Homo sapiens: one gene and its partner. The protein of the gene in region 1 purifies or fractionates together with the protein of each later gene. This does not show direct contact. Each region holds a gene or a part of one and is shown on either strand. Other genes may lie near its edges.

The links. Proteins that work in one complex are often made in the same cells at the same time.
Region 2: the proteins of GDF11 (region 1) and ZNF131 purify together in Homo sapiens (affinity purification with mass spectrometry; one large-scale study listed by BioGRID and IntAct). This does not show direct contact.

What each region holds. Positions count from the first base shown.
Region 1 is NC_000012.12:55,746,122-55,749,621, reverse strand, and holds part of GDF11 (growth/differentiation factor 11 preproprotein), read right to left. Parts: intron 1,037-3,500; coding exon 639-1,036; intron 121-638; coding exon 1-120. UniProt on the Homo sapiens protein: Secreted signal that acts globally to regulate anterior/posterior axial patterning during development. May play critical roles in patterning both mesodermal and neural tissues. It is required for proper vertebral patterning and orofacial development.
Region 2 is NC_000005.10:43,141,414-43,144,913, reverse strand, and holds part of ZNF131 (zinc finger protein 131), read right to left. Parts: intron 1-3,500. UniProt on the Homo sapiens protein: Plays a role during development and organogenesis as well as in the function of the adult central nervous system. May be involved in transcriptional regulation as a repressor of ESR1/ER-alpha signaling.

The sequences.
Region 1 (3,500 bases):
GTCCACTGTGAGGGGATATCGGCAGCAGCGGGACTCGCTTGAGTGCTCGTCGCAGTCCAGACCCAGGTTCCGCCGGGAACGTTTTGTGTTCTCTAGGACTCGAAGCTCCATGAATGGATGCTGAGGGTCAGGGAGAGGGGAAAGAAATGTGATATGGTCCTGAACAGTTCCTCTTCCCTGTTCCTTTCCCACCTGCCAGGGGCATCAGAATAGAGACTGCTGACTTCTCAGCTTTTCCATTGCTCCCACCCCCAGAATTTATCTTTTGCCCACTTTTCTTGCCAGCTAGCTAGCTCTCCTTCAACTCACCATCTCTAATTCTTACTCTTCTGGCAACCTGATCCCTGTCAGCCCCTTGGCCCAACGCCTCAACAGCCAGTTTTTTTGTTCTCACAGCTCTTCCATTAACTGACACCTTTACCTTCAAATCCAGTTTTCAGCTGTTGTCTGATTTGGATCCTTGAGAAGTAATAGTTGCCACCCCACTCCTCACCTCCTCCTCTAGAATCAGCTGCTGACCCCAGAGAAGTAATGCTGGTCCCCAACCTCCTTCACATTCCTTGTCTACCTTTTCCAATGTAACCCTATCTCCTCAGGGCCAGGTTACACATATCCACCACCTCAGGCCCCCTGCTCACCAGCCCCTCGGCTCCCGGCCCCAGGGAGGTGACAGCCAGGTCTGTGCCACTGGGATCAAAGGCGTTGATCTCGATGCCCCAGTTGCTCTGTGGCTGGCGGAACCAGCTGTGTAGCACTTGCTTGAAGTCGATGCTCTGCCAATGGCCTGAGCGTGAGTGCAGCTCAATCTTCAGTGAGCGGATACGGATGTGACGCCGGCCTCCGCCCCCTCCCCCTGCGGTCCCTTCCCCAGTTAGGGGTTTTAGTCGCAAGATCTGCAGGTAGACTGTGGCTGGGCGGGGTACAGGCCGTAGGTACACCCACAGCTGGGCCTTCAGTACCTTTGTGAACATCACCTTGGGGCTGAAGTGAAAATGGCAGCAGAGAGGGCTGCCATCTGTCTGTACTGCTGGGTCCGCTGATAAGAGAGAAGGGCACAGCATCAGCAAAGGGTGTTTGTGTAGGGGATCAGTAGTCCTGGGTGGCACTGGCAATTTTGGACTTCTCAGCCTGATTTTCCAGTTCTTCTTTACCCTTCTCCCATGCCTATCTTATACCATGTCTCCGGTACCTAAAACAGCACTTCCTCTTTAGGATGATGGCCCTATAAGGCCTTACTGATCTGTGTCCATTTCCTAATCCATTTGCCCTAATATATAGGTTCCTGTCTACCAGATAACCTGCAAAATTATTCATCCACCACCATCCTTACTGTCCAACTTTTCCCAGCATATAAGGCTCCAACATTTTCTGAATCTTTGAAGCTCTTTATAGAAGCCATACCTCTTATCACACCTGCTGCCCTTCCATCACCTTTCCCCTATCTGCTCTGATTTATCTGCTGGACAGGTAGAGCCTGGCACATCCCTCCCCCACAAAATAACACAGATGGCCTCAGAGAGGGGATAACCCAGGGTCCAGATAGGGAGCATGAGCTAAATTTATCCCATTATGTAAACCAGAATTCAGATCTAGGCTTCTTGCCTCACTCCCATTAGGAATAACACCCAGCAAAATGGAACTATCCAAGCACTTCCTATACATCTGTCTCCCCATTCTCTCTTAAGAAGTTTCTTCAGCTGCTGCTCCATCATCATCACCATGACTGCCCCCAGCTCTTGAGGAAAGGAATAATTACCTCCATGGTGTTGCCTCCTATTTGCCTAAAGCACCAGAAATAATATTAAATACACCAGATTAACTACAATGCCTTTTTTCTCCCCTGAGCTTCCTTTGACTTCTCAGTCTAGTGCCAGTAGGTCTTTACAAAGTTTGAACATCCCAACTTTACATTTTGACCCATTTCCCCTTGCTCTGGACCTTAAATTGATCCTTCTTGGGTCTAATAGATGATTCTCAATAAATATCTGCCTCTGCCTCCATTCCAGCTCCTCTTCACTGCCTTTCCTAAGTCAGTTGGGAGTGTCCTACAACATGTCTCCATTGGACAGAATATGTCTATCCTGACTCTAGATAGGAAGAATCAGGAATGAGCTTCCAGAGCCATATAAGCAGGGTTAGGAAGTCTAGGCCTTTAAGTATCCTCCCCATGTCTTGAGTTCTGCAAAATCAGGATGGACTTAGGGTGTCCTGTCAGCTCTTCCCCACCCCCACCCTGGGAGAAAGAGGACCTTCTAAGGGAGATGAGGAGAAAGTGCTTAATGAACTTCATATATTCAGGATATGATACCCAAAGTCTCTATAGCTTTTTTTTTTCTTGATTATTCTCTGAGGTCCCAGGGCCCTGGTAGTCCAGTTATTTTACTGGCTGGAGCTTCAGTGATGGTGCAATGGAGTAGGGTTTGGGGGGTGAGAATTCAGAGATCAGAAGTAGCTGGGATAGGGAAGCTACTAGTGAGATGGGGAGTGACAAGCAACATCCCAAATAGCATACTTTACAAATTTCAGCATAAGAATTGTCTATTTTCTTGCCATTAGGTACTAATCTCCATGAGAGTGGACACTGTTGTTATTCATACTGTGTCTGTTTTGCTCACCATTGTAGCTTCAGTGCCTCCCATAGTGCTAGACAGCACTCAATAAATACATGGTGAATGAACTCCCTAAACTCCCAATCTTAAATTATACAGGCAAGTGCCTGAAAGTTCTTCCTGGCATCTAAATTCTGTTCTTTGGCTATAATTGAAGTGGGTTTAATCACTGCCTGATTCCTTACTAACCACTATCTAACCTTACTCACCAAACTTCTCAGTGTGATACAGATAATAATAATTCTTGCTTCACATGAGTGCTGAGCATTAACTAGAGAATGTGAAAATAGGAAACAAACAAACCAACATTTATTGAGAAGCTACTACTATTTTCGCATTCTCTACTAAGCTCTAAACATAACCCTCCCTCTACCTAAGCTGATCCAGGGTTTGAAGATGAGGGCTACATCTAAGTCTTTGGTTCCACATACTTGTCCCAGTGGACAGGGGACAGTCAGTGCTACAAGGAGGTAGAACATAGGGAGAAAGAAAAGAGCAGGGAGAAGAGCCAGGGGAGAGACTGGAGATGGTGAGGGAGATAATAGAGAAGAGACTGTTAAGAGTTGAAGGCATATTAGTAGATATAGGGAGAGAAATAGAAGTTAGAGTGGAAAGATGCAGGGGATAATCATGGCAAAGGGAGAATAAGTTTGAGAGTTTGAGAATCCTGATGCAGAGGCAGTGATAGAAAGGAGTGGGTGATGGTTAGAAAGCTAAAGGTGGGAGGAAGCTAAACCTAGTGGGGTAAAGGAGAGAAAGGATAGAAAGGGTACAGACTGAGGAACAAAGGAGAAGCAGGTAGAGCCACAGAGGGAAACGGGGCTCGAGAGAGTACCCAGCACACATATGCCGAGCTCTGATGGGGAGGAAAAGGGGCCACATCTGTGTTGA
Region 2 (3,500 bases), on another chromosome or scaffold:
TGTTGGCTCTCACCTGAGACCAGAAAGATGAGTAAAATTTTGCCATGAACAAGCAGACAGATGGCATTCCAAGAAATGAAAAGAACATATGCATAATCATGTTATTATGTGGCAGATATTGTTTTAAGAGCTTTACGTGTACCACTTCCTTAAAACATAAATCTAAGACAGGATAAAATATTTGGAGATTTGATCTGACCCACAGCTCACTTTTCAAATAGCCTTAAACACAAGACATTTGTCAAAAAACAATCAATGGCAACTGTTTATCATTGCAACTACTGTGGTGGCATTACAAGTTTGGGCTATCAAGAAGCTGAACAAAAACTGAAAGGAAAAACTGGAGAATGAGATGTTCATAGGGGGCTTTAAAAAGCTCTGACAGACTGGACGTGATGGCTCATGCCTGTCATCCCAGTACTTTGGGAGGTCAAGGCAGGTGGATCACCTGAGGTCAGGAGTTCAAGACCAGCTTGGCCAACATGGTGAAACTCCGACTCTACCAAAAGTAAAAAAAATTAGTTGGGCGTGGTGGTGAGCGCCTATAATCCCAGCTACTCAGGAGGCTGAGGCAGGAGAATCACTTGAACCTGGCAGGCGGAGGTTGCGGTGAGCCAGGATCGTGCCAACACAAAGCTCTGTCTCCAAAAAAAAAAAAAAAAAAAAAAAAAAAAAAGAAAGAAAGAAAAAAAGGCCAGGCGCCGTGGCTCACGCCTGTAATCCCAGCACTTTGGGAGGCCGAGACAAGTGGATCACGAGGTCAGGAGATCGAGACCATCCTGGCTAACACAGTGAAATCTCGTCCCTACTAAAAATACAAAATATTAGCTGGGCGTGGTGGCGAGTGCCTGTAGTCCCAGCTACTCGGGAGGCTGAGGCAGGAGAATAGCGTGAACCTGGGAGGTGGAGCTTGCAGTGAGCCAAGATCGCACCACTGCATTCCAGTCTTGGGGACAGAGCGAGACTCCGTCTCAAGGAAAAAAAAAAAAAAAAAAAAAAAAAAAAAAAAAAAAAAGCTCTGACAATATTCCAGAGAACCTAGAGGGCCATACACATGCACAGAGCTGTATACATGTCCAGGAAAGACCTTAGCAACTCTCATCTCTATCTGACCTTGAGGTTCTGTTAACACAGGAAGTAAAGGCTAAAGCAGTTGTAAACTGCTTGATGGGACACTGATGGTGTACCCTATAAAGAGCTCCCCAACAAAAATGTGGAGACTTACTGGTTTAAGACTTTTAAGAAAATTTCTGTCCAATGATCAGTTTGTTCAGTAAACTACCTATGCAGACTTCAGTGGCCATACACACAAAATGTAGACTGTACAGAATTACAGGAAAGGGATTACAGAAGTCCAGGAAAGTCACTAAACCAGTAACAACAATAAGAAACGATGTCTGGCTCATCTAAACTAGTTCCAGTGGGATAGGAAATTAAGAAACTTCAAATACAGCGTGTAGTTGAAGATGATAAACTTGCAACAGTGGAGAAGCAGATCACTGCTTTTGAGGACTATGTGCAGTCCATGGATGTGGCTGCTTTCAACAAGATCTAAAATCCATCCTGGATCACTGCACTTAAATAAAAGCTTGAGGCCGGGCGCAGTGACTCGTGCTTGTAATCCCAGCACTTTGGGAGGCAGAGGCGGGCAGATCACAAGGTAAAGAGATGAGACCATCCTGGCCAACATGGTGAAAACCCCATCTCTACTAAAAATACAAAAATTAGCTGGGCGTGGTGGCGTGTGCCTGTAGTCCCAGCTACTCGGGAGATTGAGGCAAAGGAATCGCTTGAACCCGGGAAGCAGAGGTTGCAGTGAGCCGAGATCACGCCACTGCACTCCATCCTGGTAACAGTGAGACTCTGTCTTCAAAAAAAAAAAAAAAAGCTTGAAAGATTAAAAAAAGAAACCATGTCTGGCCAAGTATGGTGGCTTATGCCTGCAATCCCGGCACTTTGAGAGGCTGAGGTGGCCACGTCTCTTGAGCCCAGGAGTTCGAGACTAGTAGCCTGGGCAACATGGTGAAATCCTGTCTCTACAAAGAAATACAAAAATTAGCCAGGCATGGTGGCAAGCATCTGTGGTCCCAGCTACTTGGGAGGCTAAGGTGGGAGGATCTCTTGAGGCCGGGAAGTTGAAGCTGCAGTGAGCTGAGATTGTGCCACTGCACTCCAGCCTGGGTGACAAAGCAAGACCCTGTCTCAAAAAACCAAACCAAACCCAAACAAATCATGTCTGAGAGACAGAATGGGGGTGGGGAGGTAGGGGGTGGGATCTAAATAAAACTTATTTAAAAATATCCAATTTTTGGCCGGGTGCCATGGCTCACGCCTATAATCCCAGCACTTTGGGAGGTCGAGGCAGGTGGATCACGAGGTCAGGAGGTCAAGACCAGCCTGGCCAAGACGGTGAAACACCCTCTCTATTAAAAATACAAAAAAATTAGCCGGGTGTGGTGGCGGAAGCCTGTAATCACAGCTACTCGGGAGGCTGAGGCAGAGAATTGCTTGAACCCGGGGGAGGCGGTGGTTGCAGTGAGCCGAGATCTCACCAGTGTACTCTCCAGTCTGGGCGATGGAGTCTTGCTCTGTTGCCCAGGCTGGAGTGCAGTGGCATGATCTCAGCTCACTGCAACCACCGCCTCCCGGGTTCAAGCAATTCTCTGCCTCAGCCTCCCGAGTAGCTGGGATTACAGGCGCCCGCCACAACGCCTGGCTAATTTTTTTTGTATTTTTAGTAGAGATGGGGTTTCACCGTCTTGGCCAGGCTGGTCTTGAACTCCTGACCTAGTGATCCACCCGCCTCGGCCTTCCAAAGTGCTGGGATTACAGGTGTGAGCCACCGTGCCCAGGCCAAAAATCTAATTTTTAACCAAAAAAAATGATGAGACATACAAAGAAACAGTAAAATAAGGCTCATGCATGGGGGAAAAAGTCAACAGAAACCATCTCTGTAGAAGCTTAAACACTGCATTATTATAAACAGCCAACATATAATACTACTGTCTTCCTCTTTTCAAAGGGAACTCTTCAGAACATATTACATGCCTATCTGGTTCAAGAAACAATTCAACATGTTACTGTGTTTATACTGAAAAGCAATGATTGTTTTAGGTACTATTGGAATTCCAGTTTTTTTTTTTTTTGAGACAGGGTCTCATTCTCACCCAGGCTGGAGTGCAGTGGTGCAATCTCGGCTCACTGCAACCTCTGAGTCTCCCATGCTCAAGCGATCGTACCACCTCAGTCTCCTGAGTACCTGGGACTACAGTTGCACGCCACAGTGCCAGCTAATTTTTGTATTTTTCATAGAGTTGGCGTTTCACCATGGTGCCCAGGCTGGTCTCAAACTCCTGAGGTCCAAGTAATCCACCCACCTTGGCCTCCCAAAGTGCTGGGATTACAAGTATCAGCCACTGCGCCAGGCTTGGGATCCCAGTCTTGAATCTTCTCCAAAGTGACATACCACTCACTATCATGAGCAGCAAAAGGGCCACAGA